Linked DNA regions of Homo sapiens. The main gene of each other region encodes a partner of the protein of the gene in region 3 in a complex. Each region holds a gene or a part of one and is shown on either strand. Other genes may lie near its edges.

Region 1 (11,700 bases), on a different chromosome or scaffold from region 3:
CTATCCTGATTAAAGATTGCTCAAATTAGGAATCAAATGGAATTCTTTAAGCTCTTTTATGAGAATAACTTGGGAGAGCTAAGTATTCTTAAGTGTTTTAAATACTATTTTCTGTAAATAACTTGTTCATCCTTCTTTTGTTTTTTAAAAAGCAAAGCCAGTGGTTGTTAATACAACCCCAGTGCGGATGTCAGTTCCAATTGTCTCAGCTCAGGCTGTCAAACAAGTAAGTATCACATAACTTCTTTCTCAGTCTTTCCCAAATAGACGATTTACTTTTTAAATAGAAAGTTAAGATTTAGGTGCAAGAGATTTATACTGAATTGAACAGCTGTAAAATTTATTTTGTGGTCATTGATATATGTCCCTTCTTTTTAGGTTGTTCCAAAACCAATCAATCCAACTTCACAAATAGTAACTACTAGCCAGCCACAGCAACGGCTTATCATGCCTGCCACACCACTGCCACAGATCCAGCCCAACCTCACTAACCTGCCACCAGGCACTGTCCTGGCACCAGCTCCGGGAACAGGGAATGTGGGTTATGCAGTGCTTCCAGCTCAGTATGTTACTCAGGTATGTGGAAAAAATGAAGTCATTGTATTGCAAAAGTGATAATGGGGTCCAAGATGTCTAGTGCTATCACAGAAGCTACTCAAACACATCTAACTCAGTATTGAAGTGGCACTTTCCAAAATCTTAAAATGTTAACCCAAACCTTTAAGTTTATTTCTATGTACTTTTAGCATTTAGAAATATATAACACAGGTCAGATATACAAGTCAGACAATTTGGAGCTGAGAGCAGCTTGGCAGGAGCGCAAGCCTGTGGCGATATGATAGAAAATAGACTGAAGTTAAAATCAGCAGAGTCCAAATGAATTTAGAAAAGACTGTGGCTGTTATAAAGCTCTTCCTCACACATAAATTTGATGCCACTGACTTGGAAAATAAGCCCAAGTTTATTTATTGGAAAATAAACTGTGAGATGCATTTCCAGGTGACATATCTTCAGCGATCTATCTACTCTTACTGGTCATCTTTAGAATGAAAGACGGGGAAACAAACCCACACGTGTACTTTTTAATGAAATACACTTTGGAACATGTTATGTGGCTATTGATAAAAAGAATAATGTTCAGTATTTTTGTCATAAGCATTTCTAATGTTTAGAAGTTGGTGTAAAATAGAAACTCAACTATTGTGCATGTAACTTCTCATTCTCTGTAATTTGTAGTGTGATAAATGATCAGTATAGTACCTATTTTATTTGTAAGTAGGCACATTGCATTTTTCTAGCCCAAACAAGTTATTACAGTACTTTGAGAGCATTCATCTAGCATTTCCTATCATTCCGACATACTTAACTCTTCTGTGAAATACTTTCTTTATATTTGTACTATGTAGTACTGTAAAATGTTCACATTATTTTCACCTATAGTATTGGTTTGAGTCTTTAAAAGAGCTCTGTGAAGTATGTGTTTGTGTGATATTCTCCATTGTGTTTTTCTTATCTTAATGGATGAATTTGTATTTCTTACTGATCATCATACCTGACAGTATTGTCCATTTTTGGAAATATGATCTAAAATTAATTTTCTTTACATGTAGCTACAGCAGTCTTCATATGTATCAATAGCAAGCAACTCTACCTTTACTGGAACATCTGGTATCCAGACCCAGGCACGGCTTCCATTCAATGGGTGAGTATTTTGAAAATAGGTACATAAGTTGTTAGATCAGCTTAAATGCAACAGTAAATATATATATTCCAAACTACATCCTCTTTTATTTTTTTCCCCTTAAAGCCATGTGAGCATGCCTCTAAAATACTTGTTGAAATATTTCAAACAGAAAAATTACAGAAATAGTCAATTCCCAAATACTCTATTCAGATTCACCAATTTCACTACACTAGTTTTATTATTCTCTTTCATTCTGAGTATGTTTCCAAAATGATGATGCTAACTATTTTTTATCTTTATTTTTCAAGACAAGGTCTTGCTCTGTTGCCCAGGCTGGAGTGCAGTGCTGTGATCTCAGCTCACTGCAACCTCCCAGGCTCAAGCAATCCTCCTGCCTCAGCCTCCTGAGTAGCTGGAACTCTATGCACATGCCACCATGCTCTCCTAATTTTTAAATTTTTTTGTAGAGATGCGGTCTCACTATATTGCCCAGGCTAATCTCCACCTCCTGGGCTCAAGTGATCCTCCTGGCTCAGTCTCCCAGAGTGCTGGGATTCCAGGCTTAAGCCACTGCACCTGCCCAACTATTTTTAAAATTATGTGAGGTCCTCATTTTTTGTTGATGTTTATTTGTTTATCTATTAATTACTGGCTTTTGCAATATCAGCTTAGAAGCCGTGCTTAATTACCCGGAATCAGTCCACATCCCACTTCCATTTCCTCCTCCACACACTCCTTTTCCTCACTGCTTTTTATAATTGAATCCCAAGAGTTTTGAGGCAATCTCAACTTTTGTTTTCTTAGAAGGGACAGTGTTTGTGGAGTGTTCTTTAGCAGCTATTGATAACTTCTTTTAAAAAAATTATTCCATACTTGTCTCTACCTCTTTCATGTTACAACTTGCCTTTGAACCTAGTGTAAATAGAACAACGTAGCAAACTTTTTATTTTAGATGGACACATTTAACATTGGTTAAAGCTTTATTTCTGGAGGGATTTATAGATTGGAGACTTCTCTAATTTTAAATTAGTTTTAGGTCTAATTTTTTAAATTTTAAATTAGTTGTAGCAACTAAATTAATTTTAGTTACTATTAATTGATTAAATGTATATCTTTTTTTCTATCTGTACAGCATAATCCCATCAGAGTCGGCCAGTCGGCCCCGAAAGCCCTGTAATTGTACAAAATCACTGTGTTTGAAATTGTAAGTGTTTTTGCAACTGTTTGCTTATTTAATGTAATTAGAAATGCACTTAAAAGTAAATGGAGTTAACTAAAAATTTTTAGCAGACCAAAGCTCATAAGTCTAAGTAATTTAAATAAACATACAAATGAATGTTTGAACATATATGGCAGTGTAAAAATATTATTTCATTCATCTAGAAAGAAATATTTAGAGTCCTTACCATACATGAATCACTGGAGTAGGGGTTAGGGACATAGCAGCATGAGACAGACATAGCTTCTGCCCTTAATAATAATGTTTGATCTTATTTATGACTTTTGTATTTGGTCTCCTAAGTGATGATACTCTAGGTAGTTTTAAAAGTCACTGAATGGTTAATTTGCTTATTAGCATTAAAAAGACTTGACATGAAATAGTTAAATGAAAAGCATTGGTCTTATTGGGGCATAGAATCCAAAGTACTATTACTATAACTCAGATGAGCCAGTTCAACTATTAGAATATAGCTAGTGTTTTTCCTTTTTCAGAATTTTGAAATGCCTTACTTTGGGGGCACATAAAATTTATATGTGTGACATATAATTTATATAATTTATATGTGTGACAGCTCTTGTGTGACAGCTGTTATTGGTTGGACTAAGTTTTTAGGCCACATTTCTAGTACTTGGTGATTTAAACTTTGAGCCTTAGTATGTGGTTGACAATATGTGTTGTTAACTCTTTAACTGGGTAGCTGAGTAGATTTCTGAGATGCTTTACCACATATGTAGTATGTGTACAATATATATACAATGTATGCATAATCAGATAATTAGTTTTCCTTAATAATGACTTTTTACCTTATACTGACTTTTACCTTTCAGGTATTGTGATTGCTTTGCAAATGGTGAATTTTGCAACAACTGCAATTGTACTAATTGTTACAACAATTTGGAACATGAAAATGAAAGGCAAAAAGCAATAAAGGTGATTATTTTTTATTTCATTTAACTGACAGAAATATCCAGTTTCATCAGTTTTATAAAACTCAATTGTCTTGCAAAGAAACGTTATCAATTCCTTTTGCAGTGTTTAAATTTCATCTACTGTGATTTAACTCTAACTGATATTTGATCTGTTTTGCTAGGCATGCCTTGACAGAAATCCAGAAGCCTTTAAGCCTAAGATAGGGAAAGGAAAGGAGGGAGAATCTGATCGACGTCATAGCAAAGGGTGTAATTGCAAACGATCAGGATGTCTTAAAAACTACTGTGAATGCTATGAGGTGAGATGCTGGGTGCGGAAAATAATATCTTTTAAAAACAGTTTTAGAAAGGACCTACTACAAAAATTTACTTGAAAATTGGGAAATCACCTTGCTATTGCAATTTGAAAATATGCACAGTTGGTGCAAAGGCCCTTGTTTTAGGAAGGCCTTCGAGCCTCTGTAGCAGGGCTTCGGAGGAATACCTTGGGTTTATTATTACAGCTTGGGGTCTTACTGGGTGATTTACCATAACTTCTTGGTCATTATGCTCAGAAAGTATGCAGATCAGAACACCAATATATTGATTTTCAATAAAAATAATATCAAAGTGGATTGGAAACTCTCCAGCAGTGATTCTCACCTGAGGTGCAGTTCTACTTACTGTTCTTCACAGGCTTCTTAGAAATATATGGCCGGGTGCGGTGGCTCACACCTGTAATCCCAGCACTTTGGGAGGCAGAGGCGGGCAGATCACTTGAGGTCAGGAGTTCGAGACCTGCCTGGTCAACATGGTGAAACCCCGTCTGTACTAAAATACAAAAATTAGCCGGGCATGGTGGCAGGTGCCTGTAATCCCAGCTACTCGGGAGGCTGAGGCACGAGAATCGCTTGAACCCAGGAGGTGGAGATTGCAGTGAGCCGAGATCATGGCACTGCACTCCAGCTTGGGCAACAGAGCAAGACTCTGTCTCAAATATATAAATATATATTATAAATATATAAATATATATATATATATGGATACAAAATAGCCTGCATCCCAAGGTACAGTCTGGAAATTAAAGGATTATCTTGACCAAAATGCTGGTTATGCCCACTCAAAGAGCACACTGCTCTGCGGAAAACCAAAGTATGTTAAGTTTGCTTTGTGAGCATAAAAATAGGAAAGGGGGATCTGGCATTCTGCTGGATGAGGTTACTGGTCACGGTAGGCAATTGTCTCCATTTTCACTGTTTTGTTGTTCCACTGAGCTGGTTATTTTTACTTATGGGTCAGGCGTCTTCTCTGGAAGATGTAGTTGAAACTCTGCTCTGACAAATGCCATATAAATCTTCCCCTTCTTGCTTTAGACACAGTACTATATAGTTTTATTTTAGAAGCTTATGTGTAACAATCTAGTGATTGAGATTAACCCTAGATTACCATAATTGGTTTCTTGGTATGCCTGAAACTCTTTACTGACAGTCTTTTGGGTGGTTGAGTTATTCCTCTTCTTGGCTCTTCTCATACTCTCATATATTTTCATTCTTTCTTATTCTCAGAGAATTAATTAATTAATTAGTTTATTTATTTATTGGCAGAAAGCCTAGCTTTGCACTTGCTGAAGGTTTGCCCTGCCACAGGAGCATGTCCTCCAGTTCAGTGCCCTCTCCCATACAGCATGTGTCATATGAAAGATTTTGTGTATTGCATTCTCTGTGTAATGAATTCTTTCCTAATCTACTTATTTACAAAGTCAAATACTCCTCTCAGGAAGTAAAGTAGAATAGGGAATAGGAGAGTAACATCTTGTGAGTTCTGCAGATGATATGAATGAAAATTGCATAAAGAGACAAGTTTTTTGTTGTTGTTGTTGTTGTTATTTTGTTTTTGAGACGGAGTCTCGCCCTGTCGCCCAGGCTGGAGTGCAGTGGTGCGATCTTGGCTCACTGTAATATCCGTCTCCTGGGTTCAAGCGATTCTCCTGCCTCAGCTTCCCAAGTAGGTGGGATTACAGGCACCTGCCACCATGCCCAGGTAATTTTTGTATTTTTTGTTTTTAGTAGAGACAGGGTTTCACCACGTTGGCCCGGTTGCTCTCAAACTCAAGTGATCCGCCCACCCATCAGCCTCCCAAAATGTTGGGATTACAGGCATGAGCCACCGTCGCAAGTTGATTTTTTAAACTGTCTTAACATCTCAAAATCCAACAAGCCAGTTTTCATCCAGTGTTGGAATCTTTTTTAGTCTTTCTTCTTTTGAATACCTGATGAAATAGCCGGCTTGCGTTTAGAAGCCATATCATACAAAAATTGTCACGAATATGTAAAAATTAACACTTCTTTTCAGAACATGGAAATTTATGTAAAGTTGGATCAGAAGGGTAAAGCGACCCTTTCATGTATATGGCATTGAAAAATCAATACATGCTGGGCATATGAAATTCAGACATATAGGAACTAACCATTTAATTGAACTGGTTAACAACCTGTGAATTAATAGAAGTAGAAAAGGTACTGGACTGGTTTAAAAGTGTTAGAAGAGACAGCCCTACCCTACCTATTCTAATGAAATTTTGTCGGGACAGATACACTGTCTAGTAACAAATTTATCATTCCAAAAGTTATGTACCAAAAAATGGAGAAACTTAGAATATACTAAACTATGAATAGCAGTGGCTAGTTGGCTGTAAATTAGCTGTGGGCTTATCTGACATTTTGTGTTGAACTGTTCTTTTGACACCTTGTTCTTCAGCTGAATTGGCTTTTTAATCCTGTTGGTTTGCATCTGGACAACACATTCATGTGTCCTTTCAATGCCTATAGGCTTGTTGATTGGATGAATGGCTACCCACCTTATTTCATGGCTGTGTCTTTTCTTGTGACCATTTTCCTCCCCTCCACATCTTTTTTTTTTTTGGTATAGGGGAAGTTAAATTCGCCAAGCTAAATGTCATTGTAATTTCTCCATCTGAGCTCCGGTTAGACACTATTAATGTCTTTCCTATGGTTCTTAAAATATAAAGATAATTTTTAAAAAACAAATATATATATATATATAAAATCTAAATTACCATTATTGGTATGTTTTCCCCACTCTGAGGTCAGGAATTTTCTCTCGTCATCACTAGATGCTTATTAAGTATTGCTTTAGTTAGATTCCCATTCAGGCTCACAGTAACCCAGTTAACACAAACTTACATCCATTTTTTCCTTTGGTAAGTGGAATTTATTGGTGTCTTATAAGAAAGGAGCAGAGTAAATGTGTTTATAATGCAGCCCGTTTATCTTGCTAGGTGCTATAGAGAGAAAGGACAGTTTTATTTATTTATATAGACATGGGTTCATTGAAGAAAACACAGCTAACAAAAACATACTCAAATTCGTTAGAAATCAGGGAAATATACATTAAAGAACAGTGAAATCTCACTTTATCATCCCCACCATCAGATTATATATATATATATTTTTTTGAGATGGTGTTTCATTCTTATTGCCTAGGCTGGAGTGCAATCGCGTGATCGCGGCTCACTGCAACCTCCGCCTCCCGGGTTCAAGCGATTCTCCTGCCTCAGCCTCTCGAGTAGCTGAGATTACAGGCATGTGCCACCATGCCTGGCTAATTTTTTTTTTTTTTTTTTAAAGAGAGATGGGGTTTCTCCATGTTGGTCAGGCTGGTCTTGAACTCCGGACCTCAGGTGATCCTCCCACCTCGGCCTCCCAAAGTGCTGGGATTTCAGGCGTGAGCCACCGCGCCTGGCATAAAATGTTAAAAGGAATTATAATATTCATTGTTGGAGGGAATGTGGGAAAGCCTTCCTTTACACATTGCTGATGAGATGTGAGGTATTACAGCCTTTTGAAAAAGCAATCTGGCTACATCTCTTAAAATTCAAATACACAGGCCAGGCGCGGTGGCTCACATCTGTAATCCCAGCACTTTGGGAGGCCGAGGCGGGTGAATCACGAGGTCAGGAGGTCGGGACCATCCTGGCTAACACGGTGAAACCCCGTCTCTACTAAAAATACAAAAAAAATTAGCCGGGCGTGGTGGCGGGTGCCTGTAGTCCCAGCTACTCGGGAGGCTGAGGCAAGAGAATGGCGTGAACCTGGGAGGCGGAGCTTGCAGTGAGCTGAGATCGCGCCACTGCACTCCAGCCTGGGAGACAGAGCGAGACTCCATCTCAAAAAAAAAAAAAAAAAAAATTAAAATACACAGACCTGTTAACCAGTGAGCCCAATTCTAGAAATCTAACTCAGAGAAATAAAAAGGCATAATGTATAACAAAAAAGTCTTTTTATGCATCATTTGTGGTACCCAAGAACTGGAAACAAAAATAAACACCCATCAATAGGGAAATGAATGCCCAATAAAATTGACACATCATACCAGGGATTTACACCTAGCTGTTAAATAGAATGAATTCAAGCTATGCCAGATGACTTTGGAGGGATTCCATGAGTTGTAAGAAAAGCAAGATGCAGAAAAGCAGATAATATGATTTTGAAAAACTAAAAAATGAAAGTTCTATATTTGTATATACATAAGGTCTAGGATTTTATATATACTTACATTTGACATATTTTTACATGAAAATATATATTTATATGAAATGTAAAATACACACTAGTTTCATATGGGTTATTGAAGGGTTTGGGGAATCTGAAGTCCCTCCCGAACTCCCTCTTCAGATTAAAAATAGCATAATAGAATAATAAAAATGGCATCTGTGAAATCCCTTTAATGTGAAATTGTATACATATGCATAAATGGGAGGTCATCTATATGTTAATGATGATTTGATTGAGGTGGCTGGATTCTGGATGACCTTTATTTTTGATATTTTAGGATATCATTCATGTTTATGAAAAACATGTGTAACTCATATCTGAAGAAAATCTATATTCATAGTGGGGGAAAACTGACATGGAAGGACACAGCCACAAACGTTGTACAGCCACTGTCAGACTTAAGAATACCTAACCTAGCTAGCCACATGTGTAGTTACTGTTTGTCAGCCAGAGATACTTCCATCTAATCTTATTATCAGTTGACCAGGTAATGCTATTAGCTGTTGATTTGATTGTGGCATCTACTTATAGTAATGTATTTTGGTTTTGATTTGGAAACTTTTCTTATGTAAATCTTTTAGGCAAAAATAATGTGTTCCTCAATATGCAAATGTATTGGCTGTAAGAATTTTGAAGAAAGCCCGGAAAGGAAGACATTGATGCATTTGGCAGATGCAGCTGAAGTAAGGGTACAGCAACAAACAGCAGCCAAGACGAAGTTATCCTCTCAAATTTCAGACTTGCTTACTAGGCCAACACCAGCTTTAAATAGTGGAGGCGGAAAGTAAGTCAGTATTTTAATCTTTTTATAGTACTTCCCAAATACTTTTGGTAAAGTTTCTTTTCAGGGGGCAAAGTTGAGTTTATATTTTTGGTTGTTGCAAACCTGATTTTTGTGTTTTCTTTCCATCTTTAGTTACTTGTAAAGGAATTTAAAGGTAACAGAAACCACTGTCAGATTATTGTGCAGTTCGAAAATGCACAGTAATGATTTAGTCCACTGTGCTTAATTTCTGTCTACTAAGATGAGGTAATTATGTAATTTGAGGAACCCCAAAGAAAAGCAGATGTTCATATGTCTCGCTGAACGTGTAATTATGTTTTTGCATTTTCCTACCTTCTCTTGCCTTTTCCATTTCTTGGAGCACTTTTCCCATCCTATTGGACCACCCATCACACTGTAATAGTGCAGCTCCGTATTGTTATCTCTTTCATCTGCTGAGCTCTGGAGTAGAAAAGCCTGACCTCTAAAGTCAGGTAGACTTGAGTTTATACTATCTGTGCTACTTAGTAGTTTGTGAATCTCTTTGAGCCTCAGTTTTCTTATCCTTAAAATAGCCTATACCAGGTGGCTGTGAGGAATAAGGCATGTCTATAATATCTCCAGTGTTTGTCAAGACCTGATAAAACATAGTTTGTGATTTGGACTGGACTGGACTGGTATTAGAAAGTTTGTTAGAGGTTAATCTGAGGAATTATTAAATGGAATGAGCCTTGCAAATGGCATATTATTTAAAATGCCTAAGTAGGCCAGGCACAGTGGCTCACGCCTATAATCCCAGCACTTTGGGAGGCCAAGGTGGGCAGATCACCTGAGGTCAGGAGTTTGAGACTAGCCTGGCCAACATGGTGAAACCCCATCTCTACTAAAAATACAAAAAATTAGCTGGGCATGGTGGTGTGCGCCTGTAATCCCAGCTACTTGGGAGGCTGACGCAGGAGAATCGCTTGAGCCTGGGAGGCAGAGGTTGCAGTGAGCCAAGATCACGCAATTGCACTCCAGCTTGGGCAACAAGAGCAAACTCCGTCTCAAAAATAAAATGCCTAAACTGAAAATGAGATCCAGTGCTTATAAAAATAAGGCTTTTTTGTACAAAATATTTAAGATATTAGTTTTGGTTTTTTGTTTTGTTTTCTTTTTGAGATAGAGTCTCACTCTGTTGCCCAGGCTGGTGTGCAGTGTCATGATCTCAGCTCACTGCAATCTCCGCCTCCTGGGTTTAAGCAATTCTCCTGCCTCAGCCTCCTAAGTAGCTGGGATTACAGGCATACACCACGACGCCCAGCTAAATTTATGTATTTTTGGTAGAGATGAGGTCTCACTATGTTGGCCAGCCTGGTCTTGAACGCCTGACCTCAGGTGATCTGCCCATCTCAGTCTCCCAAAGTGCTGGGATTACAGGCATGAGCTACCATGCCTGGCCTTAAGATATTAGTTCTAAAGAACTCTTGACTGGAATATAAACAGCAAATGGTTTTTGACTGAATAAAGTGGAAGTGGTCAGGCACCTTAATAAGACTTATAACCTGGGATTCTTTCTGGTCTTTAGAGTATTGAATCTAATCTCCACATGGAGATTAAAGATACTGCTACAGTAAAATATTTATAATTAATTTTTAAAATTGGGAAGATGTTAACAATATGAAAACAAAATTATAAAATTATAATTATAATCAAAATTACATATTAAAAACTTGTATAAAAAAAGTTATGCTAGCATGTTAACAAGCTTGTTTCAAGTGACCAAAACCTTAAATTAATATTTTCTAGTTTAAAGTGCTTGTTTGTATGTTAAAGATTCCTATACAGCTGCATGGCAGCCTGAATTCTCAATTACCCTCTCTTGCCATAGTGAGCTTTAATTTCAGACTTCATTATTTAGTATACTTCTGTTAGTGACCGCTTACTCACAGGTTGTTGAGTTAGTGGTTTAGATTATGTTGCTTGACTTAATCTGTCACAGGCTTTAAGACTTGAGTTGGCTGCAAATATAGCAAGCCTCACGATGGGTTGCTCCAATTTAATACTCAATAGCTCAGGTCTTTATGAATGCAACTCTGTGTACAGAACATTTGGTTTCGCCATTTTGTTTTGTTGTGCTAGAACGATGCAGAATTTTGGAATGTTTTCTACAAACAGTATCAGTGACTATGGTAAAGTGCTTTATTTTTCATTTTGCCGAAGAGATAGTGCTGTCAATTCCCAGTATTATTCATTCATTCAGCAACTATTCATGTAGCGTCTCTATGTCATGCACTATTCTAGGCACTGGAGCAACAGCAGTAAATAAGAATTGAACTTACAGAGCGTACATTCATGATTTAGGAGGATTTTAGTTAAAGAAATTCTAGTCTTCGTGTAGACTATTATCTTTTAGTTAACCACATAACCTTGCCTAGGTAATAAGTAACGTGTTTTATGTTAAATTTCCTGAACAATATTCTTACAATATGTGAATAAAACCAAATTTAACTTTTTAAAGCCCTTTTTAGGATGTGCTTGTGCTCACTGTGTAAATTGTGATGCTCATC
Region 2 (11,700 bases), on a different chromosome or scaffold from region 3:
GGCAAAAACACTGCTTATATATTCATTTCTTTTTTTAAAAGACAGAGTCTCGCTCTGTTGCCCAGGCTGGAGTGCAGTGGTGCAATCTCCGTTCACTGCAACCTCTGCCTCCCAGGTTCAAGTGATTTTCCTGCCCCAGCCTCTCAAATAACTGGAATTACAGGCATGTGTCACCATGCCTGGCTAATTTTTGTATTTTTAGTAGAGATGGGGTTTTGCCATGTTGGTCAGCCTGGTCTTGAACTCCTAACCTCAAGTGATATGCCTGCCTCAGCCTCCCAAAGTGCTGGGATCACAGGCGTAAGCCACCGCACCCAACCTATATAGTCAAATTGTATCTACAAAATATGTAATATTTTCAGGAATTAGGAAAATCAGGAAGATTTCTAAATTAGTGAAAAAAATCTTAATTATAGGACATGTAAAACATAGTGCTTCTGTTTTCAAGTATACTCAGTATAACTTTACAACTCTATAAAAAGACAAGTAACTCTACTTAAAAATGAGCAAAGGATGGACTGTGGGAGGCCGAAGCGGGTGGATCACCTGAGGTCAGGAGTTCGAGACCAGCCTGGCCAACGTGGTGAAACCCTGTCTCTACTAAAAATACAAAAATTAGCTGGGCGTGGTGGTGGGCGCCTGTAATTCCAGCTACTTGGGAGGCTGAGACAGGAGAATCGCCTGAACCCGGGAGGTGGAGCTTGCAGTGAGCTGAGACTGCACCATTGCACTCCAGCCTGGGTAACAGAGAGAGACTCCATCTCAAAAAAAAAGTCAATGTGAATAGACATATTTCTGAGGAAGACATACAAATAGTCAATAAACACATGAAAAGATGCTCAACATCAGAAGTCATTATGGAAATGCAAATCAAAATCACAGTGGGAGCCAAGGCAGGTGGATCGCTTGAGCTCAGAACTTTGAGACTAGCCTGGACAACATGGCAAAACCCCATCTCTACCAAACATATCAAAAAAAAAAAAAAGATTTAACCGGGCATGGTGGCACACATCTGTGGTCCCAGCTACTCAGGAGGCTGAGGTGGGTGGATCGTTTGAGCCCATGAGTTCGAGGCTGCAGTGAGCAGAGATTGCGCCACTGCACTCCAGCCTGGAGAGCAAGACTCTCTCCCCTCCACCACCACCCTGCCCCACCCCCCCCACAAAAATCACAGCGAGATATCACTTCACTTCTGTGAGGATGGCTATAATTCAAAAGATGTATAGTGACAAGTGTAGAAAAGGATATGGAGGGCAGGCACGGTGGCTCACATGTATAATCCCAACACTTTGGGAGGCTGAGGCAGGTGAATTCAGGCCAAGAGTTCCAGATCAGCCTGGCCAACATGGTGAAATCCTGTCTCTACTAAAAATACCAAAACTAACCGGGCATAGCGGCAAGGTGCCTGTAATCCCAGCTACTCAGGAGGCTGAGGCAGGAGAATCACTTGAACCTGGGAGGTGGAGGTTGCAGTGAGCCAAATTACGTCACCGCACTCCAGCTTGGGCGACAGAGTGAGACTCCGTCTCTAAATAAGTAAGTAAGGATGTGGAGAAATTGGAACACTTATCCACTGGTTGGACTGTAAATGGTACAGGAGCTTTGGAAAACAGTTTGGTATTTCCTTAAAATGTTAAACACAGAGTTACCATATGACCCAGCAATTTCACTCGTAGGTATATGTTTTTAGAGATAAAAACATATGTTTACACATAAACTTTTATAAGAATGTTAACAGCAGCATCATTCGAGATAGCCAAAAAGTGGAAACAGTCCAAATATCTACCAACTGATGAATGGATAAACAAAATGTGGTCCATCCATACAATGGAATAGTATTTGGCAATAAAGAGGAATGAAATACTGATGGTGCTACAACATGAACGAACCTTGAAACACTACACTAAGTGAAAGAAGCTATCCACAAAATGCCCCATGCTGTAGGGTTCCATTCACATAAAGCGTCTTTCTAGAATAGGCAAATCCATAGTGACACAAAGTAGATTAGTGGTTGCCAGGGGCTGAGGGAGAATGGGGGAATAGAGACTGTTAATGGGTTTGGGTTTCTTTTTGGGTTTTTAAATTAAAATATTCTGGAATCAGATAGTGGTGATGATTAGCAACCTTGTGAATATACCAAAACATCACTGAACTGACATTTTTAAATGGTGTATTTTATGGCATGTGAATTCAATCTCAATTTAGAAAAGCTACAATGGTATCATTTCAGACCCACCTGATTAGGAAAATAGAACACTTCTACTCTGCTGGGGAACGTGTAATTTGGTAAAATCAAATTGAAAATTTTTGGTATCATCTAGTAAAGCTGAAGATGTACCCAACTCTGACCTAACAAGTTCAATCTGTACGTTTGCATGTGGTCACTGGGATACATGTATAGGAATGTTCAAAGCAGCACTGTATTTTAACATCAAGCAATCGGAAACAAACAGTTTATTTTCAGTAAAATAAACAGATAAGCTGTGATGTATTCATATAATGGAATTTTACACAGGAGTAAGAATGTATGAATTATATCTATATTAAATCACATGGATGACTCTAAAGAACATAATATCGAGTGAAAAAAAATCAAATCACCAAAGAGTATATTACTATGACTTCACTTATATAGAGGCCAGAAGTAGGCAAAACTAAATAATACATTATTTCCAGTTTACCATTTTGGTTTATCTCTAAAGAAATGCAAGTGAATGACAATGAAATGTAAGAGAATGGTTATATTTGAGGGGTGGGAAAGGGCACAGAGCCTGGGGCAGGGGCATGCAGTGGACTGGAACAGTAATGTGCTTTCCTCAGCTGGGTGCTGGATTCATGGGGGTCTACTGTACTGTGACCCTTCAGAGTCTACAGACGTAAACAACCTTTGTATCTACTCAGTATTTAATAAGAACAATTTAAGACTGGGGAAAGAGGAAGAAGGAACAGTAAATATGGTCAACTTGAGAAGTTTTACTGTAAAGAGGAGCAGCGTACACAAATGTGAATCCAGGTTTACCCCGTTCTGCCCTTTTTTCCCCTGACATTTAAACTTTCAGTCCACTCCTCCTCTCTGAATTCAATTAATCAAATGTTTTTATGTATGGGCAGATAATAGATATACTAAATTTTCCATTAGAGGGAAGTAGGATGTACCTACTTTTTTTTTTTTTTTTTTTTTTTTGAGACAGAGTTTCACTCTTCTTGCCCAGGCTAGAGTGCAATGGCGATCTCAGCTCATTGCAACCTCCACCTCCCAGGTTCAAGTGATTCTCCTGCCTCAGCCTCCTGAGTAGCTGGGATTACAGATATGTGCCATCACGCCCGGCTAATTTTTTGTATTTTTTTAGTAGAGACAGGGTTTCACCATGTTGGCCAGGCTGGTCTCGAACTCCCGACCTCAGGTGATCCACCCGTCTTGGCTTCCCAAAGTGCTGGGATTACAGGTGTGAGCTGCAGCGCCCGGCCAGGATGTACCTACTTTCTTTTGTAAATTGCCCAAAGTTTCCCTTGAAGTATCCACAGGGCACTAAGAGAAGATTTTTTAAAACTCCCTCATTGAGCTTTTACTAGCTTACTCTAACTAGGCTCTAAGCTAGGTACTGGGAATTACAAGATCTCTCTGAAGAGCCAAATTCAGTGCTGAGTGAGCCAATTTAGATGTAATAGTATATAATGTGTGGTGTATAGATGTAAGTTCATAATGTTATGAAACAAACTATTTAATCTAATTTTTGAAAAAATGGTCCTAAAGTGTTAAAGGTTTCAGTTTGTCGACACAAGCACAGATGTTCTAAAATTTTGCAATTTTCTATAAGAAAGGTTTTAACAAGTTTGGATTCAACATTTAATCAGGGACAACACATGAAAGCATCAGTTAACATACCTGTGATATAACCTTCTAAAGCCTTTGGCACCAGGGATTTCGCAAGTTTCAGATCCTCCAGAGAGCATTTGCCTGACTCCAGGCCAAACGACATTCCCATCCGCTTTAGTACTTCTATGTCATCATGGATCTCAAAGGTGTTGTCAAAATTGAAAAGATACTCAAACCTGCATCAGGAAACAAAGTAAAGGGTTTTTGGTGGTGCTGGAGAGGTCTGAATAGTTTTGTATTCTATAGTTTAAGTAACAGAATGGGGGCCTAAATCCAGCTATAGTGCTAGAAATTGCTACCATTTAGAGAGCCATGAGTCATTCTGCTCTGTCAGGGGAATGACATCTCAAATAAAACACTTTCCCAATTAAAACAACATTCCTCTGACAGATGATAGAAACCCACAAACTTTAGCCCTAACTCTGTTACAAACAGAGGATAGAAATTTTATTCTAAATCCAGTACTTCTCAAAGTTGCCTACAGCTTTGCCACAAAAGAAAAGCCTTTCTACTTTAATATTACGATATCCCTATTCCGAGTTGGCCTGTTAGCTTTGAGGAAAAAAACATTTTGAATGCTTACTTCATTTTCATGAGTCAAATGTTAGCTACAGCCTACTTCAGATAAGCAATAAATAGAAGACTTTCAACAAGTGAAAACAACCCCAAATCCTGTCCTGAGAGGCTAAGGAGTAAAATGTTTTAAGAAAAAATGTCACATGTAATACAAGCACGTTTCCAAATATGTTTGGAAAGTACCCAAATTGGATTCCCAGCTTCCCAGCAGCCCAACACACGTTAATCAAGAGGCAAAAGAAGGAAGACACAGTCCTTCCGACTCCTAGGCTAGGCCTGGAGCACCTTCATCATGGGCCTCAGCCCTGCAGGGACAGGGTTTGGGGACAATGGTAGGTTTCACCTGGTCATGAAATTCTATTAAAATCATGTGAGGGTAAAACTTTATACCCTATCTAAGATAATTTGAATAACAGATTATCTTAGAAGCAAAAATTATAATTTGAAGCAAAATACCAATTTAAGTAATCTAAAGTATATGAATTTGATTAAAGTACAATAACAACTTAAAAAAAAAAATCTGAAGTGGGTGCCTGCCACAGGGATGATTTCAGGCATCTGTTAAAAGCAGATCGTTTTGTAAATGTAATCCTCATTGTGGAAAGCCTCTTGGCTAATTATGGGGAAAGACTGCATCACCAAAGTAACTGAAAGGGTTTTTGGACCTACGTCGGATAACAAGCTTGTACAAGCTACTCAGAGCCTCCTTCCCTCCACTCAAAGGAAGGCCAAGGAAAGGGCATGAGTCAGGGACCACCCAAGAGATGGAAGCCTCACCAGATTCCAGCCTGGGGGAACAGTGTCCACAATACCCTAGGCCAATGATTCCCAGATTTTCCCATCATTCTTTTTAGACTTAAGAGACTAACCTAAGATAGTTTTATAATTCTCCATACAAAACAAGAGACTAATTTGAGAGAGTAACTAGAATGCTAAGTTTTGTGTTTTTTATCTGAAAAGATGCTAACCATTTTCCAGAATTCTCAGTTTTTTGTTGTTTTTTTTTTTTTTTTTTTTTTTTGAGACAGAGTCTTGCTCTGTCGCCCAGGCTGGAGTGCAGTGGCACGATCTCGGCTCAATGCAAACTTCACCTCCTGGGTTCAAGTGATTCTCCTGCCTCAGCCTCCTGAGTAGCTGGGAGTACAGGCGCGTGCCACCATGCCTGGCTAATTTTTGTATTTTTAGTAGAAATGGGGGTTTTACCATGTTGGTCAGGTTGGTCTCGAACTCCTGACCTTATGATCCACCCACCTTGGCCTCCCAAAGTGCTGGGATTACAGGTGTGAGCCACCGTGCCCGGCCTGAATTCTCAGTTTTCTGAGACTATGTTAATGGTCCTCTTTGACATATATTTATAAAGAATTTGCAAGTGTGTGGAAAATAATTCAGATATCTACCACTTACTGACCACTGGGCTGGGTTGTATATTAATTTACCCATAACTTTTTGAAACTGGCAAGGTAAATACTATAATTCTTATTTTTGTGGAGAAAGGAACATGATCTCAGAGAGGTTAAGAAACTTAGAAGATTAAAAAATGGATCAGCTTTAGTTGGCCAAGGAAGTGTGCACCTGCAGTCCTGGCTACTAGGAAGGCTGAGGCAGGGGGACCGCTTGAGCCCAGGAGTTTGAGGCTGCAGTGAGCTATAATCGTGCCTGTAAATAGCCACTGCACTCCAACCTGGGCAACAGTGAGAACAGTGAGAATCCACTCTTTTTTTGGGGGGGACGGAGTTTTGCTCTTGCTGCCCAGGCTGGAGTGCAATGGTACAATCTTGGGTCACTGCAACCTCTGCCTCCTGGGTTCAAGTGATTCTCCTGCCTCAGCCTCCCGAGTAGCTGGGATTACAGGTGTGCATCATCACGCTAATTTTTGTATTTTTAGTAGCCACAGGGTTTCACCATGTTGGTCAGGCTGGTCTCAAACTCTTGACCACAGGTGATCTGCCTGCCTTGGCCTCCCAAAGTGCTGGGATTACAGGCATGAGCCAACACGCCCGGCCAAGAATCCACTCTTAAAAAAAAATTTATTGGTTCTGGTTTACTTCATAACCTCTACTATTTCTTTTTGTGTCTATAGTCTCAATTATCAAATAGTTTTGAAATTCCTGCTGTTTTTTTCTTTTTTCTTTTTTCGAGACAGAGTCTTGCTCTGTCGTCCAGGCTGGAGTGTAGTGGCACAATCTCGGTTCACTGCAACCCCTGCCTCCCAGGTTCAAGCGTTTCTCCTGCCTTGGCCTCCCTAGTAGCTGGGACTACAGGCGTGCGCCACCAAGCCTGGCTAATTTTTGTATTTTTAGTAGAGACAGGGTTTCACTATGTTGGCCAGGCTGGTCTCGAACTCCTGATCTCAGGTGATCCACTAGCCTCCGGCCTCCCAGAGTGCTGGGATTACAGGTGTGAACCACCACGCCTGGCTAACTCTTCTTTTGTGTGTGTGCCTTCTTAGTGGAGTGGCCCGGAATCTCTGGACACAACAGAGACCGGCAGGGGGCGCAAGAGCGCCAGGAAGAAGAGTGGGAAAACAAGTAGCAGTGAAGCCCAAGGGCAATGTCAGGGCCCTAGGAGACAGGAAGTTCTGGTATCCCTGGGACAGTTCTGGGGTATGCCTGTGGTACTGACGCAATTATTATAGAGTCTTCTTTTGCATTAATAAATCCCTATTTGAACAATAAACTATAGGCTGACCTTTTGTAACAGCAGCTAACATTTAAAAAACACTTACCTCAAGTCATTATAGACATTAACTCATTTAATCCTCACAAGGCTGGGAAGTCATAGGGGACCCAGTATCATTCCTATTTGTTCTTGAGAAAACAGAGCTTTGCAGCAGCGAAGTGGGGGAGCCATAAGCGGTACATGGATCCGTCTCACTCTGCACCCTATATATACTCTTAACTCTTTTATGGTACTGGTCACAGCCTGAAGACCACTGAGAGAAACTTTTTCATGAATGGTAAAATACATCACAAATTAATTCTATATTTTGAAAAGTGCTACTTCTTATTTGCCATAATGAATATTATCATTGATCTTAGTTAAAATGTAAAAACACAATTTAAAGGAAGCAAAGAATGTGCCAGGCATTTTCATGTCTATTCATACATTCATTAATAAACAGAAGCATGCATAACTATGATATAGCAAAACAAAGAAATAATTGGTTTAATGCCACATGTTGACCTAAAATATTTCCGTAATAAACTATGACGGTGAATCACCAATGAATCTACCTTGTCCCAGACCCACAGTGCTGGGCTAACTTATCACAGTTACTTGCTCAGAGTTACCACATACATGCAGCACGTCATAGGTTGGGCCCAGACACTGCCACACACATATAATACAGACAGCACAGTGCCTGGCACAAGACAGGGGACCACAGAGGGTGAGGGTTGGAGCGCACACTAGTGGAAGATTGCACCCATGGTTCAGGAGGTGTTTCATGTGCCCCAAGGAAGCCAGCCTTTGAGGGGTGCAACTAATAAAGTGCATCCTTCTTGAGTTTGCAAATGATATGAAAATGTTAACAGAAGGCCAGCCCTGCACCCATCCCTAGTTCTCCACTCACTTGTCACTGGAGATGCTGCAATCTATGACTGTTTTTCTGCTTGTATTGATGATTATGAATGGCAGCTGAATGGTAGAGTTCAGAGCCGGCGGGCCCTGGTTTTGCTGCTCATTTTGTCGATTTCTCTGTACCAGGTTTTTGAAAGCGATTTGCTGTAATGATCAATAAAAACAATATGGTCAATTGTGCATAAGTGAGTTGGAATTTAAAAGAATTAAGATAATACCTTTAAATATAGTTTAAAATTAGAGTTTAAAGAGACATCCCGCCTGCACTAATGAATTAATTTAAAAAATTAAACATTTAAGAAAGAATGATCCAACTCAATAAATACATTTTTCCATCATCCATAGAAACAGGACCTCACAATCTGGGAAAGAACCAGTAGGCACCTGGAACTCTTCAGCAAATGACACAGCAAGGGTGATACCATTTATCTAACATAGACTCCTGACAGTTTGGGGTCAAATATGCCCCCAAACTTTAGGATGTGTAGCCCAGGGATATGCAAACATTTTAAAGGCACAAAATTGTTTCTTCAAATAAAATCTCGAGGGAGGCTGGGCACAGTGGCTCACGCCTGTAATCCCAACACTTTGGGAGGCCAAAGCAGGTTGATTGCTTGAGTCCAGGAGTTTAAGGCCAACCTGGGCAACATGGCAAAACCCTATCTCTACAAAAAATACAAAAACTAGCTGGGCATGGTGGTATGTGCCTATAGTCCCAGCTACCCAGGAGGCTGAGGTGGGAGGATTGTTTGAATCCAGGAGGCAGAATTTGCTGTGAGCAGAGATCATACCACTCCATTCCAGCCTGGGTGACAGAATGAGACCCTGTCTCAAAACAAAACAAAAAAAAACTCATGTAAAACAGATGGAAGTGGTGCTGTTGAGGCTGGCTGCAGTGAGGCCAGGTCCTAAGCTCTGCCATCTCTGCCCTCAAGCACAGCCACATGGTTTCTAAGGCACCTCCACAGAACTTCTCAGCAGCCTCTGGGCACAGTTTGGAATCCAGCCCCAGCCTTCCCCAACCAGACATTTCCAGATGAGGTAACTGAGGCTCAGCACTAATTATAAGATACATCAAGGCCTAAATTTTTTTACTGGATCTTGCCGCTACTTTTAGTTATAACCATTACTCAAAAGCCAAAGAAAGTGATCTCCCTTTTAGACGGAGGCTGCAGTAAGCCGAGATTGCACCACTGCACTCCAGCCTGGGCAACAAGAGCAAAACTCTGTCTGAGAAAAACCAACCAACAAACAAACAAGTGATCTCCCTTTTTTTAATAAGGTAAATGTACGATAGAATTTCACAGCTAGAAAGACTGTATGCAGTTCAAGTTTTTCATCTGCTCAAGAAACAGATAACGTTTTAAAAGTTCCTCAAGTCAGAGCCATTCATTCCCCTTCATTAGCTTGTTATAATCTTGTCACCCAGTAGTGATAAATTTATTTTTTACATTTTAGCAATCTTATGATCAGTATTGTTTATTTCAGGTTCTGGACCTTAACTAAAGTTTCAGTAAGATTACTATTATTGGCCAGGCATGGTAGCTCACACCTGTAATCTCAGCACTTTGGGAGGCCGAAGTGGGAAGTTCTCTTGAGCCTAGGAGTTGGAGGATGCAGTGAGCTATGACTGTGCCACTACATTCCAACCTGGGCAACAGAGCCCTTTCTCAAGAAGAAAAAGAAAAGAAAAAAAGGAAAGAAAAGAAGGGAAGAGAAGGGAGGGGAAGGGGAAGGGGGAGGGGAAGGGGAAGGGGAAGGGGAAGGAAAGGGGAAGGAAAGGAAAGGAAAGGAAAGGAAAGGAAAAAAGAAAAGAAAAGAAAAGATTACTATTATCTTAAAATGGCTGAGTGCTATCTCCCCAAAAGGGGAAGATTTACTCTTTGAAAAGCACAAAAAATAATGAACACCAATTTATTGTAGACCTAAGTGTGTCCAAAAATCACTATCAATAACTAGCACTATCAATATCATTACCAAACATTATTGAGGTTACATTTCATTATTTTCTGTTGCTAAAAAACGAATTCATTGCTTAATTCCTTTAATAATGAGGAAAAATTATGATTAAACTGTGGAACTGAGAAAAAGAATTACATGCTTAAATACTCCTGCATAGCTTCTCTTCCCTTTTACTAGAATACACATCTCAAGAGCTGTTCCTACACTTTGCCTAACTTGGTGTCTGTCCCTAGTGCCACAAGAGGACCCTGGTATATGGGGGAATATAAGCAGTGATAACTAATGGCCCTTATGTATTTGTGATTCACTATTTAATGCTGTGTACATTTAATAGTATCAATGGTTTTTCAAGTGAAGAGAGCAGTAAAAACATAATGTTTTTATTATTATTATTTATTATTATTTTTTTGAGACGGAGTCTCACTCTGTTGCCCAGGCTGGAGTACAGTGGCACGATCTCAGCTCACTGCAACCTCCGCCTCCCAGGTTCAAATGATTTTCCTGCTTCAGCCTCCCGAGTAGCCGGGACTACAGGCACCCGCCACCATGCCTGGCTAATTTTTGCATTTTTAGTAGAGGCGGGGTTTTACCATATTGGCCAGGCTGGTCTCGAACTCCTGACCTTGTGATCTGCCCACCTCGGCCTCCCAAAGTGCTGGGATTACAGACATGAGCCACTGCACCTGGTCATAATAATGTTTTTTTTAACACTGTCACAAATTTCATATACCATATAATGTTATTTTGGATAGTAAAAGGAAAAATAATTCACTTATTTTGAACTGACTTATTTGTTGCCCTTTGATTGATTTCCTTTGGCCTTTTGTTCTTTTTCAAACTCATTAACATCTATTCCAGAGGCTGAACAGCTTTAAGTGTGTTCATTCATTTTCCTATGCGTTTATTATGGAAAAGGTTTAAGGGCTGGAAAGGGCAATTATAGAGATAAAAGTAGGATATTGGGATTATCTACAGGTTTGCTTTACTCACTCCATTCTTCTACATTACCAAAAATAAAAGAGAGGTGGTAGCAAGGAGGTAATAGTTACCTGTGTCATGTGACATGAGTGAGTTGTGACATGAGCTTATAAAAAAAAATCAAGTGAGCTTAGCCACAGCAAATGGATTACTTATTAAAAAAAAAAAAAAAAAAAAGACAGAGTCTTGCTCTGTTGCCCAGGCTGGAGTGCAGTGGTGCAATCTCGGCTCACTGCAACCTCCGCCTCCCGGGTTCAAGTGAATCTCTTGCCTCAGCCTCCTGAGTACCTGAGATTTCAGGTGTGCACCACCATGCCTGGCTAATTTTTTTATTTTTAGTAGAGACGGGGTTTCACCATGTTTGTCAGGCTGGTCTCAAACTCCTGACCTCGTGATCTGCCCACCTCGGCCTCCCCAAGTGCTGGGATGACAGGAGTAAGCCACTGTGCCTGGCTGCTTAATTTACTTTCTATGACAACTTAATTTATTTGATGAAAGGAAAAAAACTGAAATGCTAGGAGGAAATAAGTTTTTTGTTTTTTTTTTTTTTGAGACAGAGTTTCGCTCTTGTTGCCCAGGCTAGGGTGCAGTGGGGCGATCTCAGCTCACTGCAACCTCTGCCTCCCAGGTTCAAGAGATTATCCTGCCTTAGCCTCCCAAGTAGCTGAGATTACAGGCATGCGCCACCATGCCTGGCTAATTTTTTGTATTTTTAGTAGAGACGGGGT
Region 3 (9,569 bases):
AATTTTGTATTTTTAGTAGAGACGGAGTTTTTCCATGTTGGTCAGGCTGGTCTCAAACTCCCGACCTCAGATGATCTGCCTGCCTCGGCCTCCCAAAGTGCTGGGATTACAGACATGAGCCACCACGCCCAGCCTCCCTCTGCCATCTTAACTAAGCCTCATCTTTCCCTCCTGCCTGTCCCTCTCCCAGGCTGACCGCAGCACCCCCACTCCTGTACTACCATCCTGAACTCAGGCCCTCTGCCCCTCAGCGCTATCTGGCTAACTCTTTCTTGCTTGCCACACTAGCCTGGGAAACATCAGGCCTGGATCAATCCTCATGACCAAGTTCCCCAAACTCCTGATCAAACAGCAGCTGGGCCCCCAGCACCTCCTGAGTGGCAACCAATCTGCCTTCCCATGTGGGCTCTCCCTGTCCCCATGATGGCCAGGAGCTGTCAAATCTGACTCCTCCCCACTTTCTCTGAGCAGATGACTGGCCTCACGGTACCCCCTGCTTTACTTCAAAGTTCCCTCTGGCACATTTTATATCAATTGGTTGGTTTATATCTGTCTGCTTTTTAGAATTTAAGCTCCATGGCCGGGCGCAGTGGCTCACGCCTGTAATTCCAGCACTTTCGAAGGCTGAGGCACGCGGATCACAAGGTCAGGAGATCGAGACCATCCTGGCTAACACGGTGAAACCTTGTCTCTACTAAAAATGCAAAAAAAAAATTAGCCGGGCATGGTGGTGGGTGCCTGTAGTCCCAGCTACTCGGGAGGCTGAGGCAGGAGAATGGTGTGAACCCAGGAAGCGAAGCATGCAATGAGCCAAGATCGCACCACTGCACTCCAGCCTGGGCAACAGAGCAAGACTCCATCTCAAAAAAAAAAAAAAAAAAAAGAATTTAAGCTCCATGAGAATAAGGTAGTTTTTTGGTTTTTGTCTTTTGAGATAGGGTCTTGCTTTGTCACTCAGGCCGGAGTAGAGAGGCACAACCACAGCTCAAGAGATCCTCCCACCTCAGCTTCCTGAGTAGCTGGGACTACAGGCATGAGCCATCATGCTATCATGCTAAGTTTTTAAAATTTTTTGTAGAGATGGGGTTTCACCATGTTGCCCAGGCTGGTCTCAAACTCCTGGGCTCAAGTGATCCTCCCACCTCAGCCTCCTAAAGTACTAAATTACAGGCATGAGCCACCACACCTGGCCTGGTTTCTATCCTTTACTGCTATATCTTCAGCACTACAACTATGCCAGACATGTGGGGGTAGGGTTGGAGGGTCCCTCAATAAATGTGGTTTTGTTTTTGTTTTTGAGACAGTGTCTCCCTCTGGTTGCCCAGGCTGGAGTGCAGTGGAATGATCTCAGCTCACTGCAGCCTCGACCTCCTGGGCTCAGGTGATTCTCCCACCTCAGCCTCTCGAGGAGCTGGGACTAAAGGCACATGCCACCATGCCCAGCTAATTTTTTCTATTTTTTTTTTAGTAGACAGAGGGTTTCATGATGCTGCCCAAGCTTATCTCAAACTCCTAGACTCAAGCAATTTGGCCTCCTCGGCCTCCCAAAGTGTTGGGATTACAGGCGTGAGCCACCATACCCGGCCTAGTATTTATTTAATGCATGAACCAAAGAACAAGCCCACAGCACACAGAGCTCAGTGAGGATGGTATGTTAAGCTTGCTGTTACCTGCAGCCACTCTGTTCTTTACAGCCTCCTCCCTCCAGGACAGGAAAGGGCCTGAGGGCAGTCCCTGGGAATGAGCAAGACCTCAGGCAAGAGAGGGCATGGGGTACAAGCCCCTGGAGCCTCACAGGCGTCAGCTCAGAGTGTAGCCAGTCAACGCCCTGCATGTGAATAACCCACTGGTGGTTTGTTAAAAATCCCTTTTTGCAGGCTCCACCCCAGGTACCTGACTCAGAGGGCCCAGGAATTTTCATCATTAGCCTGCAGCGCACTGCATTTGAGTTTGACAAAGTTGTTCCACCGAGTCTTGGTGTGAGCTATAGGAGACAAGGTAATGCAGCCTCCATCCTCACCGTGGGGCACAGGTCATCCACCTTGGGTGACCAAGGACTGTAGGGAGCGGCCAGTGACAGACCTTGGGGAAGAAGTTGGGGAGGGGATAGGCTCCATGCTGACAAATCACAAAAGCTCAGGGCGTGAGTTAGGTGTGGTTCATCCATGGAACCTGCAGGTGCATGCAGCCCAGCCACATGGGCTGCGGGGTGCGGGGTGCAGGGTGGGAAGCACAGAGCCCCCGCCCCTCCTCGGCTTTAGATCAAGAACTGGGACACTGCCAGGACCAAGCACGGCATGCCTGCATGTGAATGGACAGGAGTAGGGGGACTGTAGGCGGGAGCTCAGCAGGGAGAAAGGGGTGTGTCTGAGGCCAGACACATCTGAACTCTGGCACCCTAATTAACTCAGTCCCCATCCCTCTAGAGTTGGCCGCATCTCTTGCCCCAGGTGAGGACCTGCCCCAAGTCTGCTCAACCTCTGCCCACAGGGATGTTCATGTGCCTGTCCCATGAAGCCTGCTGCTGAAAACATCAATTCCTCATTTAGACATTCTCAGACTTGGCATCTTCCCCTCTTCAATCCCCAGTGACTCTTCCCAACCACCTGCCAAGCACTGTGCTCTGTAGCCACAACCCTAGGGATTTAGGGCCACAAGGGCAGAGGCTCTGGCCCATCCTGGCCTCCTGCTCAGCCTTGGCCAATGGGGCTAGAGGGTTCTGCCCAGCTGCCTTCACCCCTCTTCCTTGCTTACTGGTCTGACCTGGGGGCCACGCTCAGCTTGAGGCAGGGGCTTGTTAATGGGCAGGTGAGCCACCCAAGGCAAGGGCCAGGCAAGGCCCTACTGCACCAACCCATCGTCCTCCTCCGCCCCCAGTCTCTGCCCACCCCCGCCCAACCCCATGGCTATTAATACTCAGAGCTTTGCAGAGATGCCCACTGGGTGCAGAGACGAGAGAAATTGCTCTCATCTCATTGTGCCCCTCTGTGGAAACAGGGTCAAGGGCTCAGGCCTGGGCTGTGCCGATAAGGCTGGCCTCTGAGGATGAGCATTCAGGTCCCTATATCCCAGAAGAGGCCCCTAGGTCACCAGGGAACCATGAGCAGGGCCCAGTAGAGAGGCAGAGTCCAGACCAGCACAAAGAGAGAGGCAATTTTATTCTTCCAAAAAAATGCACCAAGAGAGGGTGAGCACAGGAGCACCCCTGGCCACATCCCCCATCCTAAGCAGGGTCTGAGATGAGGCCAGGCCTGACGTGGGCTTGGGAGAAGCTGACGGAGCTCCCTGTGGCCTTGGGGAGGGAACCAGGCAGACCTGGAAGTGGAACTTTGTTGTTAGCACCAGGAGCCGCCCACAGCTGGGCTCGGCAACAGGGCAGCACATGGCCCTGTTGCCTCCACCTGAGAGTCTGGGGAGGGGCTGGTGGCAGAAGGCTCCCTGCAGGAGGTCACCTGAATGACTCTCAGATTCACAGACCCCCTCTGCCCCCACAACCCCTGTAAACATGAGAATGGGCTCGTGACACCCTCAACACCTCAGGACAAGATGAGGGTCCGAGATGTGTGGCTGGGCTTCAGGCGGCCCAGGAGCTGCCGGGCTTTCTCCTGCATGAAAAGCTGGTCCCTGGTCCCCCCGCAGGCCACCGTCTTCCAGGCACTGGACATCTGGGAGGAGGCAAGAGGGTTACCATCCAGGCAGGGACTATGTGTTCCCAACAGACCCTGGTGATCCTGGCCAGGGAAGGGTAGAGTTATAAGCCTCCCTCCCCTAGAAGCCAGAGCCTTCTTATTCTCTCTCCACATTCCCTGTGACCCTGGACAAGTCACTTCCTGGCTGTGGGCTTCCTCAACTGTAAGTAGGACGCTGGACAAGGAGACATGGCCATGCACTGCCCGCCCCGTGCAGCACCAGCCTCGAGGAGAAGCCACAGCCAGGAGGCGGGTGAGAAGGAGCAGTGAGACGGGTCAGCAGCCTGAAGCCAGCCCCTGCTTGAGGACAGACATGTACTAAGCAAACCAAATACAGGGATAATGACTTAGTTACAAGTGAAACCCAGGCCACAAAAGAGAGAATGGCAGAATGGGGGTATCTCTACAGAATGTAGGGTCAGAGAAGGCTTACCCCTAAGGAAGCAGCATTGAGACTGAAATCAGAAGAGTAAGTTAAGCAAATGCAGCCACGGGAAGTAGCAGGAAAAGCACCCAGGCAGAGGAACAGCCTATGCAAAGGCCCTGAGCTAAGAAGGCGGGCACTGCAGGACCCCCAGGGATGGCCAGCACTCAGCCCTGAGCTAAGAAGGCGGGCACTGCAGGACCCCCAGAGATGGCCACAGCACTCACAGGGGCAGGTGTCGTGAAGTGGCTTCGGGGCTTCTGGGCCACTGCTGCCTTCTCGGGCTTGGCCTGCAAGAAGCCCTGGTTGAGCAAGCTGTTGTCTTCTTTGATACCTGACAGGGTGAGGCTGGAAGAGTTTGAAGGGGCAGTTGTCGGCTGAAACCAAAACCAAGTCAAGGAGTCACCATTTTGCGAGAAGCTGTGAGAGGGAAGAAAAAAACCCGCAATCCCACCCCAGCACCACCACCTGGCTGCTGAGACCTGAAAGAGGATACACACTTTTCCAAGCCTCAGTTTCTGCTTTCAGATAGGGAGTTTACATGAGCTTAAGCTTACTTTATACTTAAAAGATTAAGCAAAGGGCCAGGAGCGGTGGCTCACGCCTGTAATCCCAGCACTTTGGGAGGCCGAGGCAGGCGGATCACGAGGTCAAGAGATCGAGACCATCCTGGTCAACAGGGTGAAACCCCGTCTCTACTAAAAACACAAAAATTAGCTGGGTGTGGTGGTGGGCGCCTGTTGTCCCAGCTACTTGGGAGGCTGAGGCAGAAGAATGGTGCGAACCTGGGAGGAGGTGGAGCTTGCAGTGAGCCGAGATTGCACCACTGCATTCCAGCCTGGGAGACAGAGCCAGACTCCGTCTCAAAAAAAAATTAAGCAAAGAACTTAATCTTGTTCTAAAGAACTTTCTTACTTAAAAAAAAAAAATCAAGTAATCAAGTAAAGAAACGTGTGTGCGTTTCAGAGCCTGATTCAGTGGTGTGTCTGGAGGCACAGTCAAGTACGTGGGGGCACATCAGCCCTGGGATGGGTGCCGTGCAGCCCCCAGGCCATAATAACATAATCAATAAATGTGGAGTATCACTGAGCATTATCCAGTAATAACATACTCAATAACGTTGGCTTTGTCACATAAAGCCTCAGGAGGAGCCAAGGCTGTTCCTAGTTTTCCTGGGACCAGAAACATCCACAAGCATCATAAAGACGCAGCTTCAACCCCAAGCACAGCGGAGTTGCACAAAGCCCCTCCCACGCCCTTCCAGTCTCTCTGCTCTGCTTGGCACTGTGCCCTCCTGACTTAGGCTTGGCACCCCTTTTATAGGCTTTTAACTGGGGCTCAGGGAACCTGAAAGATCCCAGAGAGCAGTGATGGTGTCATAACTCAAACCCAGGCCCACCTGACTCAATCTGTGCTCTTCACTCCCTGCGGTGATGTTTTTTTCTTTGCAGTAACCTGGCTGCAGGTCCCCAGCCTGTCAGAGACCCCTAGCCAGGACAAGGTTTCTCTGCAAGGACCGTGAGGGCAGCAGTCTACTTGGAAGATCAGGCAACCCTTAACCTTTGTTCATGACGCCGCCATGCCTCTCACCGCCTCCCCACTCTGAGCCAGGGCAAGCCAACTCACCCCATTGTGAGCAGAGAGGGATCAGCAGCACACCCTGGCTTCTGGGGACCCAGGCTCTGCACAGGCAACAACCCCCTTTCTGAGGTCGACCTCACTGTAGCACCCGGCACAGCAAGTCCACTGGCCTGGGGGCTGTATAGCACCCATCCCAGGACTAATGTGCCCAAGTGCCTGGCTATACCTTAAGACACATTACTAGGCTGGGCACGGTGACTCACGCCTGTAATCCCAGCACTCTGGGAGGCCGAGGCAGGCAGATCACCTGAGGTGGGGAGTTCGAGACCAGCCTGACCAACATGGAGAAACCCCGTCTCTACTAAAGATACAAAATTAGCCGGGCGTGGTGATGCATGCCTGTAATCCCAGCTACTTGGGAGGCTGAGGCAGGAGAACAACTTGAACTCGGGAGACGGAGGTTGCAGTGAGCCGAGATGGCACCATTGCACTCCAGCCTGGGCAACAAGAGCGAAATTCCAATTCAAAAAAAAAAAAAGAAAAAAAAAGACACATCACTGACCCTCTCTGGGAGAGCGCAGGAGACCCAGATGCATGTTTTTAAAACATGTCCTAGCCGCGCAACTCTGCCAAACAAAACCTTCTGTGAGAGACAAGCAGAGCTGCTGACTGAAGCCATGAGTGGGTGCCCGGACCCACCCTCCCTGATAGCCCCTCCCTGCAGAGCCCAGGGTTCCAGAAGCCCAGTTGGAGAGTCACTACACTAACTCCACCTTGAGGGTCCTCTCCAAAACTCAACAGTTCCAAGGAGCAGAAGCCTTACCAAGGATAGAGACTTGGGCAGTGTGGACATCATCAGCTTCACATCCTCATCCACAATGTCAAGAGCCAGAGACTTCCGGACTTTCTTGATGGGGCTCCGCCGCAGCTAGGGGTTGGCAGATAGAAGGGGGTTAGGGTGAGTGTCTGGATTCCCCATGGTCAGCACCTGGATGGTCATGGCCATGGATGGTCACAAAACCAGGCCCTGCTGCAGTGCAGACTTGGAGCAAGGCCCAGCTAGTGGGAATCTGCTGTCAGAAGAATGGGGTGGCTGGGAAAGTTAGGCCCCATGGCCCCATTAGACTCTGTACCCAAGGTAGACCCTATCCTGCCAGGTGCTGCGACAGTGAGCAGGAACACAGCATGAACCTCCACCACGAAGTGACCTGTTCTCACCCCGAATGGACCAGACACAGCCCCTCAAACAGGCCCAGCAGAGAATCACCCCAGTAACACCTAAAATAGCACCCACAGGCCAGTAATATGGGAACACAAACCCCTCAGGACAAGCCCCTCTACAATGCCTAATACAATCAAGGAACGCCCCATTCCTAACCGTGCACCTCACAGAAGCAGGTCCAGGGCCTGCTCCGATACCAGGGAGCGGCTCTGAGAGTCACATCCCCACTCTACCCAACAGTGCACTCAGCAGGGGCTGCCATGGCTCACAACCATCCCCACCAAGGAGAGGCCAGGGAGGACCCTGGAGGCCAGAGGCCAAGTTCTCTCCACGTGCACATGGGGTGCCAGCTCGGGCAAGTCCCGCCCAGGCTGACCGCCCACCTCCCCTCCTTACCTAACACCCTGTACATCCCACCGTTCCCAGCTCTCCCTTGAGGAGAGCAGTCTGGGAAAAAGGAGCACTAGGAGACTCGAAGGGATCGCGCACTGTCATGAAAGCTAACGACGCAGTGGGAGGGAGGCTGGCATAGAACGGAGGCTTGGGACAGTCCCTTCCCTGCCCCCCTGCCCAGGAGCCCCTGCAGACTCCACCTCACCTGAACCCACTCCCCCACCCCCAGCTCATGCAGCTTGACACTCAGCCAGGCACTGCCTGGCCTGGCTGGCTCATCCCGACCGCCTCGCCTCCACCCAAAAGATTCCTTTGGAACCTCCCTTTCTGCGGCCCTTGGTACCCTGTGAATTCAGTCATGGTGTGTCTGTCTAGCATCTGTCTCTGCCCCCTGAACACTAAGGGGAGATCCAGTCTGGGTCGTAATTGCTGCTCCATCCACCACATCCAGCCCAGCCCAACTTGAGCAGGGTCCGAACACAATGCTGGATAAGTAAGTGAATCCTTCAAAGCAGAGCAGAGGAGGGTCCCAGAGACACTGTCCTTATCTTGTCAGTTTCCTCAACAACCACCGTGCGAAAGGGGGCAAAGGGGATATGCTACGCCCCCATTCTCCCCAGCGCCTCACTTTCTACAACCTGTCCCCAGACGCCTCCCCCATGCCACGGCTCCAATTCCCCCTGCCCAGGCTCTCCCACCCCTACCCTACTCACCCCAGGCTTCCTCTTCTGCTTCTCGGGCCTGATGTCGTCCTCGATGATGAGTTCGATGCCAGCCTCAGAACGCAGCACCTCCTTCAAGTCCTCCTCCAGGTGCGGGGTCTGTGGCTGTGGGTAGGCACGGGGCAGCCCACGTGAGGCACCACACTCGGGCTGTGTGTGTGTGGGACTGTGGGACCAACCCAGCTGCAACTGGGCTGTCCTGGGTAAGGCAGGAAGGAGGCCTGACGCCAGGATGCAGATCTCACACGCACCATTCACAACCACTAACTGCTGCCTTGGACAAGCAGCTGATGACCTTGATTCCCAGGGGCCTGCCATGGCTGGGAGCAGCCCAGAGACGCACTGTAACCCTCACACAGCCCTGTGCAGTAACCGTCATTTTAAGCAGGTAGAAACAGAAGCTCAGAGATCAACAGCCTGGCACACAGTCACACAGCTGCTGAATTAGGACCCCGACAGCTCAAAGCCCAGGCTCACTCAACCCTTTGTTCCACACTAATGGGGGCTCTCAAACCCATTTCCCTTTCTCAGGCCTCGGGGTTCCAAGGACCTCTCCAGCTTCAGGCAACAGAGAACAGGGGAGGGCGAGTGCTACTAAGAGTGAAAGGTGCGAATCACAGCCACTCCTCATAAGTCATCCGAAAAGCCCCCACAAACTTTAATTACAGCTGCCAAGGTCATGTGATTTGCCCTCACACCTGTTTGGAGAGCATGCAGATATTTTAGTACAGAGGAGCCAAATCTCCACTGCAACAGGAAAGGAGCACTAACTAGTGCCTCACCTCGGCTCATGTAGCATGGTCCGTGGAAAGTCTGCTTGACTCAGAATCAGTTCCATGGCAGGCCCAAGGGAGCCTCAGCCCCCAGCCACCTTGGGCTTCATAGGAGGCTCCATGCAGTGGAGAGAGACAGCAGGGGGACCCGCTGCAGACCTTGTTCACAGTCCAGTGCCTCCACAACCATGCCTTTCTCTCACCCTCCACTGATTTCTAAAACACCTGTGTGTTTCAGAAAGCCCAAGGTGCCAACTCCTTTTTTCATAGAGAAAACACAACCATCCCATCAACTGGGAAGAGCAGGGGAGAAGGGCAGCCTGCACACTGCAGGAAAGACGTCCCCGAGGGGCTTTCCCGTGCTCTGTAGAGAACTGGGAGTTGGTCAGAGACAGGCCAGAGTAGCAATTTGCCACTTCTCTGAACTAGGCCCAGTGCTTATCTTTGCCTGAAAGTGTTTAAGTTATTTGTATTTCACATCAGTCTCCCCCATCCTGAGGCTGAGTGTCACGGGATACCACCATGTCTCTAGCACCAGCCGGCGCGTGCTTGCAAACTCAGGTGCTCAGGAGCAGTCGGAGGAAGTGACAAAGAGCAGCCTCAGCTTCCCCATTTATATTATCAGGATCTCTGCATCTTCTCAGGAGAAAGAATCAAATGAGACCTCAGAGGGAAGGGTCCTGTGGACTGAACATGGTTGGATGAACCGAAGGGATCCCACTGTGCAGAGATCCACGGCAGCGACCACACCACGTACCAGGGGCT

Evidence for each region.
Region 1: MYBL2 (region 3) and LIN54 share a complex: the UniProt entries of both Homo sapiens proteins name them as parts of the DREAM complex.
Region 2: MYBL2 (region 3) and TFDP2 share a complex: the UniProt entries of both Homo sapiens proteins name them as parts of the DREAM complex.

Annotation. Positions count from the first base shown.
Region 1 is NC_000004.12:82,928,415-82,940,114, reverse strand, and holds part of LIN54 (protein lin-54 homolog), read left to right. Parts: intron 1-152; coding exon 153-226; intron 227-378; coding exon 379-576; intron 577-1,610; coding exon 1,611-1,702; intron 1,703-2,816; coding exon 2,817-2,888; intron 2,889-3,733; coding exon 3,734-3,836; intron 3,837-3,996; coding exon 3,997-4,134; intron 4,135-8,969; coding exon 8,970-9,172; intron 9,173-11,700. UniProt on the Homo sapiens protein: Component of the DREAM complex, a multiprotein complex that can both act as a transcription activator or repressor depending on the context. In G0 phase, the complex binds to more than 800 promoters and is required for repression of E2F target genes.
Region 2 is NC_000003.12:141,955,788-141,967,487, forward strand, and holds part of TFDP2 (transcription factor Dp-2), read right to left. Parts: intron 8,177-11,700; coding exon 8,025-8,176; intron 4,054-8,024; coding exon 3,887-4,053; intron 1-3,886. UniProt on the Homo sapiens protein: Can stimulate E2F-dependent transcription.
Region 3 is NC_000020.11:43,710,055-43,719,623, reverse strand, and holds the end of MYBL2 (myb-related protein B), read right to left. Parts: coding exon 9,562-9,569; intron 8,137-9,561; coding exon 8,023-8,136; intron 6,623-8,022; coding exon 6,518-6,622; intron 4,491-6,517; coding exon 4,341-4,490; intron 3,666-4,340; coding exon 3,537-3,665; 3' UTR 3,142-3,536; downstream 1-3,141. UniProt on the Homo sapiens protein: Transcription factor involved in the regulation of cell survival, proliferation, and differentiation. Transactivates the expression of the CLU gene.